4 separate regions of the Homo sapiens genome follow, and all the other regions are reported to be linked to region 1. Evidence: microRNA targets listed by miRTarBase, many of them from high-throughput screens and not tested one by one. Region 1 holds a microRNA gene; each other region holds the end of a gene's coding sequence.
What was found. Region 1 holds the annotated microRNA hsa-miR-6778-3p (UGCCUCCCUGACAUUCCACAG, at 1,624-1,644, opposite strand). A microRNA usually pairs through its seed, bases 2 to 8, with sites in the 3' UTR of a target mRNA and lowers its output. Matches are read on the target gene's strand: a 7mer-m8 pairs with bases 2 to 8, a 7mer-A1 pairs with bases 2 to 7 and ends in A, and an 8mer does both.

Region 1 (3,131 bases):
GGAATTCGAAAATAAGGGGAGTGCCTAGGGGTAGGTTATGAGGTAATGGAAAGAAAAACCTTCACTAAAATGATATTAATGTTTATACATCCATGTCTTCTAGTTTGACTACTATGAGTCTTTCTCTTTGAGAAACATGATGGATCACTGTAAGTTCACCAGAATAATGCAGCCTTGTGAGGCCTCCCAGTGGCCCCCAGCCAGCCATGCACCCTCCTTTCATTCAAACACCTGCCTCTCGAGTTCAGCAACCGGCGCCATCCTAACACATAGTGGTTGCTGATCCCCCTCCTATGTTCCTAGGACCTGGATGCACAAAAGTGAAGCAGGAGCTGTGGCTGACAGTCTCCTTCTGGGGATTCCTTTCTTTCTTTCTTTTTTTTTTTTTGAGACGGCATCTCGCTCTGTCGCCCAGGCTGGAGTACAGTGGCACAATCTCAGCTCACTGCAAGCTCCACCTCCCAGGCTCACGCCATTCTCCTGCCTTCGCCTCCTGAGTAGCTGGGACTACAGGTGCCCACCACCACACTCGGCTAATTTTTCGTGTTTTTAGTAGAGACGGGGTTTCACCGTGTTAGCCAGGATGGTCTTGATCTCCTGACCTCGTGATCTGCCCGCTTCGGCCTCCCAAAGTGCTGGGATTACAGGCGCGAGCCACCTCACCTGGCCGGGAATCCTTTCTGTAAAGCCTGTCACTGCTCCTTCCTAAGCAGCTCTTTAAGGGACTGGGATCTTAATATTTTCCAAGGATCCCAGGTCAGAGTTTTTCCCAGCTCCCTCAACTGAATCTGAACCCCCACAGGAGAAATGTAAACCATGGTACCCATCTGTACCCAACATTCGGGAGCTCACCTTTCCTGTAGAAGATCATGCCAGCTCGGCAGCCTCGCAGGGTCTTGTGAGTGGTGGTGGTCACCACATGGCAGTGTTCAAATGGGGAGGGCACCACGCCAGCCGCCACCAGCCCGCTGATGTGAGCCATGTCCGCCATGAGATACGCCCCGTTCTCATCTGCAATCTTCCGTAGCCGGGCATATTCCAGGTTTCGGGAGTAGCAGCTGGTTCCTGAGACAGGAAAGGTGACACAGCTGCATCAGAGATGTCCACCGGCCAGCTGAGTTGGCTTCACAGTGGCCTCTAGATGTGCAGATCTGAAAGCCCAGAGATTTCTTCCCTTAAAGTCTCAGAGCAAAAATGGAGAATGCCCTCAAAAAGCACCTCTGTGCTAAAGGCAACCACTCTAACTCTTCAACGTCTTGGTGGTTGAGATGGCCCCAACTACTATTGCCAGCGCAGTCAGGGCCTGACATTTCTAGATGCTTCTCTGAGAACAGTCTCACATCTTAATCTACATAGCACAAAAAGCAGCAAACACACATCTGTATCCTGAAAGAAACTAATATATGTAGACCCCAGAAACTCAGTTATCCAGGGCAGAAACTAGCAGTGGGCTCAACAGGGTGCGAACATCTTTCCATCCTCATTCTGTAAGAGGCACCAGGCTACTGGTGAACAAGGTGACTTTCCGCCCCGCGCATCACCTGCGATGATCAGCTTCGGGTGGAAGAGGCGTGCGTTCTCCTCCAGCTGGTCATAGTTGATGTAGCCAGTATCTGGGTTCACCTGTGGAATGTCAGGGAGGCAGGTTCAGGCTGCTTCCTCCAACCACACCTGCCTCCTGTCCTCCCACTTGAACTGGCTCCACCCACCATGACAAGAGGAATGATGTCCTAGATGAGGACTTGAGGGTGAGACAGGATGGATACTGGTGTGTTCAGCCTGCTCAACCAAGTATGGCTCACAGACCCAGGAGTCCCTGAGGAGTCCCAGGGTTGTAGTGAGCCCTGCTGCTGGGGCACTACCTGCTGAGAAGGAACCAAAAAGCACCTGCAGAATGAAACAAATGTGACGGGACCACACAATGGAAACCAAAATGGTTACCTTCAGGAACAAGACCAAAATGCCTGCTAATACTACTTCTATTCCAAGTATAATGAGGCAAGAAAAAGAAACAAAAGGCATAACGATTAGGAAAGAAGAAATTTAAAAACTGACATTACACACAGACAACACAATATACCTAGAAAATCAAGATGCTAGGGGCCAACTGTTAGAATAAGCAAATTTAGCAAGGTCACTGGATACAACATTGAAAAACAAGAAGTAGGGGCTGGGCGCGGTGGCTCACACCTGTAATCCCAGCACTTTGGGAGGCTGAGACGGGCAGATCATGAGGTCAGGAGATCGAGACCATCCTGGCTAACACGGTGAAACCCCGTCTCTACTAAAAATGCAAAAAATTAGCCAGATATGGTGGCGGGCGCCTGTAATCCCAGCTACTTGGGAGGCTGAGGCAGGAGAATGGCGTGAACCCGGGAGGTGGAGCTTGCAGTGAGCCGAGATTGTGCCACTGCACTCCAGCACTCCAGCCTGGGCAACAGAGCGAGACTCCATCTGAAAAAAAAAAAAAAAAAAAGCCAAAAAGTATATAAAAGCAAGAAAGATAGAAAATGAAATGTAAATAACAAAAACCATAAAAGGAAAATCATACCAAACCTTTACACAAAACATCATTGCGTTGTGTATTTTGTGTCACAAAATGCTTGACAAATTATAGTAATTAAGGCAGCACGCATTCATGGAAGGGCAGAGCATCTGGCTTAACCAGAAGCAGAACCACACACAACACAGGTCATTGGATCCATGCCAGTGGTGACGCTGCAGTGCAGTGGGGAGAGGATGACCTTTTCAATCAATGGCACTAGGTCAACTGGGCATCCATTTGGACAAAAATGTTATCTGGATGCCCGCCTCACCCACACAAATCAATTCCATATTCAGCAATCCCACTTGTGAATCTATATCTTAAGAACTTGAAATCAGTATGTCAAAGAGACATGTGCACTCCCATGTTCACTGCAGCACTATTCACAATAGCCAAGTTATGGAATAAAGCCATGTCCATCAACAGATGAATGGACAAAGGAAATGTGACACATATATATATAAACAATGTAATAATAATCAGTCTGAAAAAAGAAATTCTGTCATTTGCAACAACACCGATGAACTTGGAGGACCTTATGCTAAGTGAAATACGCCAGGCTCAGACAGACAAATACTGCATGATC
Region 2 (3,124 bases), not on the chromosome of region 1:
ACATAACTTACAAGCCAATAAAAAATAAGAATATGGACAGATAGTTCGCTGAGAAATGAAAACAAATGGCTCTTAAGCATTTGAAAACATGCGTCCTCACTCGTAATTAGAGAAATTCAAATTAAAACCATAGTGAGAAACCATCTTTTACTGTCAGATGCTTCCAAAGCTGTCAGATTAGCCAGGCCGTGGCGAGAGGCACAACTATCCCTGGCTGAATGGAAGGTAAACTGGTTGAGCCCCAAGGACAGCACTCTGGTGACACATTAAAAATACCAAGGTGGGGCCGGGTGCGGTGGCTCACGCCTGTAATCTCAGCACTTTGGGAGGCTGAGGCAGGTGGATCACGAGGTCAGGAGTTCGAGACTAGCCTGGCCAACATGGTGAAACCCTTTCTCTAAAAAAATACAAAAATTAGCTGGGCACAGTGGTGCACCTGTAGTCCCAGCTACTCGGAGGCTGAGGCAGAATAGCTTGAACCCGGGAAGTGGAGGTTGCAGTCAGCTGAGATGGTGCCACTGCACTCCAGTTCAGGCGACAGAGTGAGACTCCGTCTCAGAAAAAAAACAAAAACAAACAAAAAATAAGGTGGCTGGGTGCGGTGGCTCAAACCTATAATCCCAACACTTTGGGAGGCTGAGGCAGGCAGATCTTGAGGTCAGGAGATCGAGACCATCCTGGCTAACCGGTGAAACCCTTTCTCTACTAAAAATACAAAAAATTAGCCGGGCATGGTGGCACGTGCCTGTAGTTCCAGGTACTCCAGAGGCTGAGGCAGGAGAATCACTTGAACCCAGGAGGCAGAGATTGCAGTGAGCTGAGATTGCACCACTGCACTCCAGCCTGGGTGACAGAGCAAGACTCTGTTTCAAAAAGAAAAAAAAAAAACAGTGTATTATGGAAAACGAGTAAACACGTATAAATGCATAGAAAATGTTAAAACATTTTGCAAACAACCCAGATGTCCAAAAGGTGTCTAGTTCATTATACTAAGATAAGGCTTTACATTGTAGTTGTAAAAAAAAAAACGCCCAGTGGAGTAGCTCACGCCCAGCACTTAGTACTTTGGGAAGCCGAGGCAGGAGGAACAGTTGAAGCCAAGAGTTGGAGACAAGCCTAGAAAACATAATGAGGCCCCATCTCTGTTTCTATATATAAAAAAAGAAAAAAAAAACCCTGATATATAAATCTCTCCATATATAACTGAAAAAACCCAAGATGCTGATAGAGGTATACAATATGTTACCTTGATTTTATATTTTTAAAAATTTATACCTCGTGATGCAAGTTAACTACCTTGATATTAAAAGGGAAAATGCACAATATTTAGATTGATGTTTATTTGCATATGCATTAGAAAACCTGAAAGGCGTACAGTGAAAAAGCAAAAAACAAGCAAAACCAAGAAAACAACAACAAAACTCCAAGCCACAAGCAATGGCACCTGCATGGAATAGTTCTGAGTTTGGCAAAGGACAGCAACAAGAGAGATTTCTCACAGCATCTTTTGATACTTTTTTTCTTTTTTTTGAGACGGAGTCCCACTCTGTTGACCAGGCTGGAGTGCAGTGGCGTGATCTCGGCTTACTGCAACCTCCGCCTCCCAGGTTCAAGTGATTCTCCTGCCTCAGCCTCCCGAGTAGCTGGGACTACAAGCGCGTGCCACCACACCCAGTTAATTTTTTATTTTTCGTAGAGATGGGGTTTCACCATGTTGGCCAGGGTGGTCTTGAATTCCTGACCTCAGGTGATCCACCCGCCGTGGCCTCCCAAAGTGCTGGGATTACAGGCGTAAGCCAGTGCGCCCGGCCGATACTTTTTTTTGTTGAGTCTTGTGAATAGAATACATATTCTAGAATAAAATAAAAAGCTTAAAATTAACAAAAAACAAGTTTATTCCACACCTACCCAATTTCACATAGACTTGAAAACACTGATCATATAATACGTGGTTTTTTCTATTGAATATTTACTGTTCATCTAAAGTACCTCAGAAAACACAAATATGAATCTTACACTAGGATTTGTTGACATGACCACAAATTGTGAAATTTCAAAGTCCTCTCAATAGCCTTCCAATCCTAGTAACTCAGGTACACCTGGATTCCTGACAACTCTATTTCTTTGTTTTCTTTCATCACTTAGGTTCATTTCTATGGGTTCTGTTATTGGCATTTTTTTTTTCTCATATCTTTGCAAAACCATCCTTTATGGTGAAAGTCATGAAGGATTCTTCACAAATGCAGGAAAATGCATTGCTAACAAAGTGCTAAGTCAGAAGTGTCTTGGGACCTGTTTGAAAACAAGATTCGGCCGGGCGCGGTGGCTCACGCCTGTAAAGTAATCCCAGCACTTTGGGAGGCCGAAGCGGGAGGATCGCTCGGGTCCAAGCGTTCGGGACCAGCCTAGGGATGCGAGACTCCCTTCTCTATTTAAATAATACTAAAAAAGAAGAAAGAAAACAAGATTCAACAGTCTTGTCTGTTTCCATTTCGGAGTGTGCTTCCTCCTTCAATTGCACATTGCCGTATTCCCTTCCAGTTTGCATTCCCCCTAATGACTGAGTTAACTAAACTGGCACAGCCTGCCTGTTCTTTTGATCCCAAAAGGGTCACTTGGCTATTCCTTGCCACCAATGTCATCATCACAGCCGACTCAGTCGGCCAGAGGACTGAGGGCCTCGGAGGCAGTCAGCGCTACCGTAAACGCGACAGCAGCGAAGTCCATCTGCGGGGGATCCGCGTCAAAGGCTGCTTCCCTCGCCTTGCAGCCTTCCACAAACAGCCTGCGGCGTTCCTCGAAATCCCGTAGTAATCTGACCGGAATCATGGAGCTACCATCCAGATACTCGCGGAACAACAGCTGCCGGTTAATTTCTAAGAAAGCGAGCTGCTGATGGGGGTCTGGCGCGGAGGCCAGGCCCGGGACGCTGCTGGGGATGGGCCCGGGCACAGGGCCCGGCATCCGCGCCATGGACCGCGCAGCTTCGGCCACTGGGCCTTCCCGAGCCTCCTGCACCCGAACCCCGCCGCCGACTGCCCCCCGCAGTACGTCGCTGACGCCACTCGCGGTGCCCACCTGTGGGACACTGCTATCTCCGGGGAGCTCGGACATCTCCAACAGC
Region 3 (3,131 bases), not on the chromosome of region 1:
AACACTTCAATAACTTTTCACCTTAAGATGACTTAAATGTTGCATTATATTAAAGCACTCAAATAAAACTGTTTTCTTCATAATAGAATGACAGTCATGACATGGCTTTAGTAACTATGAATGAGCCGTTGATTCATTTTAGCTTCATTTTTGTTTATCAGTCACTGAAACACAGAACTAAACCAAATATACCTGTTTTTCATATATACAACATTATACCACTTTGCAGAATATATGCCATTTCCTAAATTACAATCTACATTCTTAAAAGCATATAAAACAAAAGATGTTTTACACATTTTAAAAATAAAACAAAAATTCTACACATATCTTCTCCAGTGCAAAGCCTTTGAAAACAAACTCATTGAGAAAAATGGTGCTCTACATTTAGCTAGCTGTCTATTATCTACAGTCATACAGTCATATAAGATCCAACAATAAGAAAGTAAGGAAGGAACAAATTAACAATAGTGGCAATACAATAGTTGGACAATTAGGTTTGGATTATATGAGCTCAACCAAATGTTAGCTGACAGCTGCAACAAACGAAACCATGATTTAAGGAACATTCTAATCAGTTCAAACTTTATATTATTATTTTATATGAAATAAATTCTCTAATTACAGTGCTATCTCCCATAAGCAATTTGTTTAGGTCTTGTTATTGTTATCTCCTAACTATACCCCATATGTATTCTGAGAACTATGTAGGACAAGATACATTTTAAGAAGATTAAACACAGCATTTCTTTTTCTCTCTCTCTCTCTTTTTTTTTTTTTTTTTGAGATAAGGTCTCACTCTGTCATCCAGGCTTCAGTGCGGCAGTGTGATCATAGTTCTGTAACTTAAACTCCTGGCCTCAAGCAATCCTCCTGCCTCAGCCTCCCAAAGCGCTGGTATTACAGATGTGAGCCACCAAGCCCAGCCTAAACAGCATTTCTCTATTAAACCTTTTCAGAAGACTGCATGATTAGCCAAAAGTGACTTTTTTTTTTTTTGAGATGGAGTCTCCCTCTGTTGCCCAGGCTGGAGTGTAGTGGCGTGATTTCGGCTCACTGCAATCTCAGCCTCCTAGGTTCAAGCAATTCTCCTGCCTCAGCCTCCCGAGTAGCTGGGACTACAGGTGCCCACCACCACACCCGGCTAATTTTTGTATTTTTAGTAGAGACAGGGTTTCACCATATTGGCCAGGCTAGTCTCAAACTCCTGACATTGTGATCCACCTGCCTCAGCCTCCCAAAGTGCTGGGATTACAGGCGTGAGCCACTGCGCCCAGCCCAAAAGTGACTTTTTGTAAAAAATTATTTTCTACACTAAAAGAAGATAAATAATAGTCATGCAATCAGAAATTCTACAGAAGTCAGCAAGATGTTAGAATAAACTGGACCTCTGTTTTAAAACATGTAGTTTTAGTATTTCATAATACTTAAAATTTGGATGTTTTATTCTTAGTAAAATTAACATTACTTCATAAAATAAAAGAATAAATCTACTTACAAAAATGTAATTCAAAAGTTAGACTGTCAAATAAATTCAGAGCTCCTTTCTCAGTTCAGATTTTTTTCTGTAATAAAAGGTTTGATAAATGACACAATTCTAATATGAAGATCCTTAACTACATTAAGCTTGCTTTTATTAAGATCTTTATTTATATTCCTAAGATTTTAAAATCAGCAAACTCACTTGATATAGAGGAAGCACCTACAGATTTTGGAAGATTTTCCTTAGCTATCTGCAAATTGACTGATTAAATTATGGTAAATGCAGGAACACTGTTTTTTCTGTTCACACCAGACCCTGAGAAGGCACTGAGAAATTTGATAAGAACAAAGCCAATAGGAGTGTTGCCACTATTGTTTTATGTTCAGTAAACATCAGAATTTTAAATACATACAGTAAATTTATACTGCACCAAGGGCACCTGAAACAGACATGCCAAAACCACACACTGTAACATCTGTTCTAAACTACAGAAATGCTAAATATCCTATTTCAAATACTCTAATTTGTAAATTAATACCTGTGATGTCACAATGACACTTTTTCATAACAATCAAGGAAAGTACCATTTTCTTGCCAATTTTATGGACTAATTTCCTTAACTAACCCTACAATTATATAACATTTACCTGTCTTTTTTTTTTTCTTTTACCATGCTATACACAATTACGAGATACAGAACTAGGCTTAATCACACTATAATAAGAAAACTCACTTTTGAATTGTGATGTTTCTGTTAACGGAAGGACAATACGTTACTATAATACTTTTAGTGTAATAACTTTTGTTTGAATTATGAAAAAATTTGAATCATTTCCCTCTAGACCATTTCATTTCAAACTTATACTTTGTTTAGTCTAGCCAGTTGACCAAAAAGAAAGAAAATAAAAGGAAAAAGATACTCGGCCAGATGAGATAGAGAGAGAATGCTAACACAAGGTTCAATGTATGCAGTTCTCGGTTGCTCTGTTCCATATGCCCACACAGTGTCATGACATATTGGTGTACCCCTAAACAGAACGCCAGATCAGTCCATTCTTACTAGGCTGAAGAAAATTCTCTATCAGAGCATCAATGAGTTTCTTCAGTTCTTCCTCCAGTAAAGCAGTGTCACTGAGGAAAAGATGAAGAGTTTTGGAATTATTTATTTTCATAGGCTTAAAATTTATTTAAATTAGTGTGATTTTTTAAGAGGTCCTGATGGAGTCATTAAACAATTGGTAAACAAAAGAGAAATTCACTTGGTTAAAACAAAACAAGACCAAAAAAAAAAATTACACACAAAGAAAACACTGCTATCACAAACTGAAGGTGAACTGCATTAATAGGAGTTCCTTGGCACATGATAAACAGAGGAGTGATGGTGTATCTAAAGAATTCTCCTGGGTCAGGAGAATGAGGTTCTAATGGCTTTGAACACAAATACCAGGTGTTAGGAGAAAATGGCTTCCTGAAATACTTTGAAAAATATTCAGTACAGATGTTATGGAATGATATATCTTTCAGGTAGCAGAAGGAGGTGTGACTAAAATAACGTGATGTTTAAAAAAATAAATGTGCACTTAAAAGAAGGCCCTTGAAAGTCATCACTGAGGTGCTGCCGTTGCCCAGAACATTTCGAGGCAAGCCT
Region 4 (3,131 bases), not on the chromosome of region 1:
ATGCCACAGCAATGTCAAATCGCTATATGTTCTTAAGCACTTGTGGCTCAGTCACAAACACAACTTGCAGACTAGCACCTGTTTGTGGATCACACTTTGAGTAGTACTGAGTTTAAGTCACTAATATTTTAAACCTTAATAACTTACACCTATCCCTGCAGAGGGGAATAGGTTCATTATATAAGATTAATCAGAAACCATCCCATATACATGGAGGACAATAGTGAAAATAGTCAAATTTTAATTTCAAATTACAAATGTAAGCCCTCTAGGACTGCTGGACATGCAGTGGATGCTGACTTTTCTCTATAATTTTTTTTAATAGGTGGTATTAAAGATGGTCACTGAGATTAAGAAGATTCCTGGTATTTCTCGAATTATGTATGACTTAACATCAAAGCCCCCAGGAACTACTGAGTGGGAGTAATAAACTTCTTGTTCTATTAAAGTACCGTGTGCAGTTTAAATTGATTAGAAATCATTCCCATTATTGACATGCAGTACTGTGAAAAGAGTTACTGGAGCAGCTACATCACATCTGAGTTCTCCACAGCAAAAATCTACGGCTTAAGAGCTGAGTTGGGGATAACCAAAAGGGACTGAAGAGTTTGTACGGGTAAATAATCAAAGCACCATTGCCTACACTCAGACAGATTGATACTGCTTTTGCCTTTGCCTCACTTATTCTTTATGTATAAATTCACTGTTGATGTCTCTGTGAATATGTATGAAGGTGGGTGAATTTGGGGGTAATTATGGGCTTCTGTCTCCTTACCAGTTTCTAAGAACTGTTAGAAACGCCCATTATTTACCAGTGTTACTTACTACTTATATATACTTTTTGGAGAATCAGTTTTCTTATAAGTAATCTTATTTCTCCAAAGGGTGAAAAAGAGATGAACATATCAGATAAAGGTATAGGTGGGCTATTCCAGCCACTTTTGAAGGACACTGAGGGTATAAAATGTAAGCTACCATAAGATGGAAAAGCACCAGGAATTTGTTGATGTACTTTTGAATTTTATTTCACAGCCTTGGGAGGAAGAAACTATGAGTGGTCTCAGATGTCTATGAATGGTCTTAAAATGTTTTCAAACCATGTTCCACATAGATGCCATGTTATTCAATGTCAGCTTGTTTATTAGTAAGGAGCTTTATCCTCCTAGCCTTATATTACCAGCCCCCCACAGCCTTGCATAGAAAGTTTCTGTTATCTCCTTAGAAGAAACTGGCTCAATGACGTTTCTGGTGTAGTGCAGATAGAGGTCAAGAGGAGCATTTTCATCTCTTCTTTTGCTGGTCAGAGAAACGGTTCTGAGATCACAGAAGCTATGATGCATACCTACAGCTTACAAAAGGGAGAGGAAAAATGTTTATATCATCTAGTAAACAGTTGTAAAATGAGCTTTTAAATCTAATCTATAGACATATTATTCATTGCTCAGACACCTGTGAACAGTCTTGATACATGCAAGATGTTTGCCAAACTTTGTAATCCTTTCTACTAGCTATAAGAGAGGATTTAAGAACTGGTGTAGGACTTGTTGCCATCACCACCAGTTTCTAACAGATCTTTTATAACATTCACATAAGTACTGTAGACAGTAGTAGACTTAAACTCTCCGTTTCTCTCAGTATTTTAGCTAAGAATGTTACCATATTTTTCTCTTAACAATTCCATCTCAGGTTGCTGCTGCTTGTCTAGTTTAAAAGGTCAGATCTATTAATCAGGAATGAAATTTTATTTGGGATTCAGTGTTAGACAAACAACAAAATGATGCGTGGCAGAAGTCATCTTTTTATTCTGGCTGGTCCAGGGAACAAGAAAACTGCTGCTGGACCAGCAAGGGAAGAGTTTCTGTCTGTCTTAACAGAAATCTGTCCCCAAGACAAAGGGGTACTTGACTCCTACAAAACTTAAAGGGTACATTCTCTATCTGATGAGGAGGTACTCATTATGGCCTTCTGGAAAGAGGCTATGTTAGTGATCTGGTCTTTACAGATTTAGAGTCATGTTATTTGAAAGCTAGAATAGACAACCTATAAAATGCTTACCAACATGTGTCAGTACACGTTTATGTTTATATGAAAAAAAATTTCTAGCCACAGTGTCTTATGATTTTGTATTGAAGCAAACAGTAGGAATTTTGGAAAAATAGAGAGTAAGAATGTGTGTTCTATGGAACACTGCTCCACTGAGAAGGTCCATGTAAAAAGGATTAGGTGGTCATATAAGTTTGGGGAACATAAGCTCACTTGTCCTTTCCTGGAGATTCATGGTATATAATATTCAAAGCTCTGAGAAATTCTGAAGTTAAAAACAATTGTTAAATTCTGCTTAAATTAGTGTTTTCCTGATATTTGTTTTTTGAACACCTTTTATATAATCCCTTCTAATATATACTTAGTATATACTTAATATAATATTGGGAAAATTGTTACTCCAAAGCACATCTTGACATGACATAGTTTCTTAAAAATCCAAATTTTCTGGAACTCAGAAATTTCCTAATATTTAGCACACTGTCTTCTTTTGCACAGCACTTTTTGCTTTGTGCCATATAGCATTACTCTGTACCTTCACAGTATTTCATCTGAGCCACTGAGGAAAGTTAAAGGTTGCACTTCCATTTTACAGTTAAGAAAACAAGCTCACCTTAGGCATGGTTACTTAATTAATTTCAGAATTAAATTTCAGGTTTCCTTAGTCCAGATTGTCCTGATGTGTATTCTGACACCTAAAATTATATAAACATTTATGGGATGCTTATTTTACTAAGACTAGAATGGTGGCTACCTGGCTAATAACATTCATCATTGGTTATTCTGGGCATATCATGACTTTATTCCCGTTGCTTACCATCTACCTGGGACACATCTCTCTTTGATTAAATATATTCTTTTTCTTTGTACTTTTTAGGTAGACAGAGAATGTAGATCATTGAAAGCATTATTTATTCCTAAGATTGGCAGGCACAGAATCATTTTTAAGAACCAAATACCCAGTCCTGCCTTAAAGGCCACATCTATGATCATCAGCTCTGTTAGAAATAACAGCCTGGCATAATTCCTAAATACAAGTCTGTAGATATATCCAGGAGATAGGGTTACACTGTTTTCTAACCTTTTTT

Region 2: the mRNA of EID2B is a reported target of hsa-miR-6778-3p. Seed matches in the 3' UTR shown: 7mer-m8 at 1,765-1,771, 7mer-m8 at 1,631-1,637 and 7mer-m8 at 1,599-1,605.
Region 3: the mRNA of PGM2L1 is a reported target of hsa-miR-6778-3p. Seed matches in the 3' UTR shown: 7mer-m8 at 1,233-1,239, 7mer-m8 at 1,100-1,106 and 7mer-m8 at 882-888.
Region 4: the mRNA of GMPS is a reported target of hsa-miR-6778-3p. The part of its 3' UTR that is shown has no 7-base or 8-base seed match.

The regions. Positions count from the first base shown.
Region 1 is chr17:18,339,191-18,342,321 of GRCh38, forward strand. MIR6778 (microRNA 6778) reads right to left here and starts at 1,696; the gene lies at 1,624-1,696. It overlaps SHMT1 (serine hydroxymethyltransferase 1), which reads right to left. Exons shown (of 12, transcript NM_004169.5): 6 at 1,542-1,623; 7 at 853-1,065.
Region 2 is chr19:39,529,662-39,532,785 of GRCh38, forward strand. EID2B (EP300 interacting inhibitor of differentiation 2B) reads right to left here. Exons shown (of 1, transcript NM_152361.3): 1 at 1,326-3,124. The coding sequence ends at 2,656. Among named protein-coding and RNA genes, the nearest start is that of EID2B, 1.6 kb to the right of the region's middle.
Region 3 is chr11:74,334,141-74,337,271 of GRCh38, forward strand. It overlaps PGM2L1 (phosphoglucomutase 2 like 1), which reads right to left. Exons shown (of 14, transcript NM_173582.6): 14 at 1-2,614. The coding sequence ends at 2,512. All of the region lies in intron 2 of LOC112268078 (a long non-coding RNA gene), which reads left to right. Among named protein-coding and RNA genes, the nearest start is that of P4HA3, 24 kb to the left of the region's middle.
Region 4 is chr3:155,937,266-155,940,396 of GRCh38, forward strand. It overlaps GMPS (guanine monophosphate synthase), which reads left to right. Exons shown (of 16, transcript NM_003875.3): 16 at 326-3,131. The coding sequence ends at 427. Among named protein-coding and RNA genes, the nearest start is that of GMPS, 68 kb to the left of the region's middle.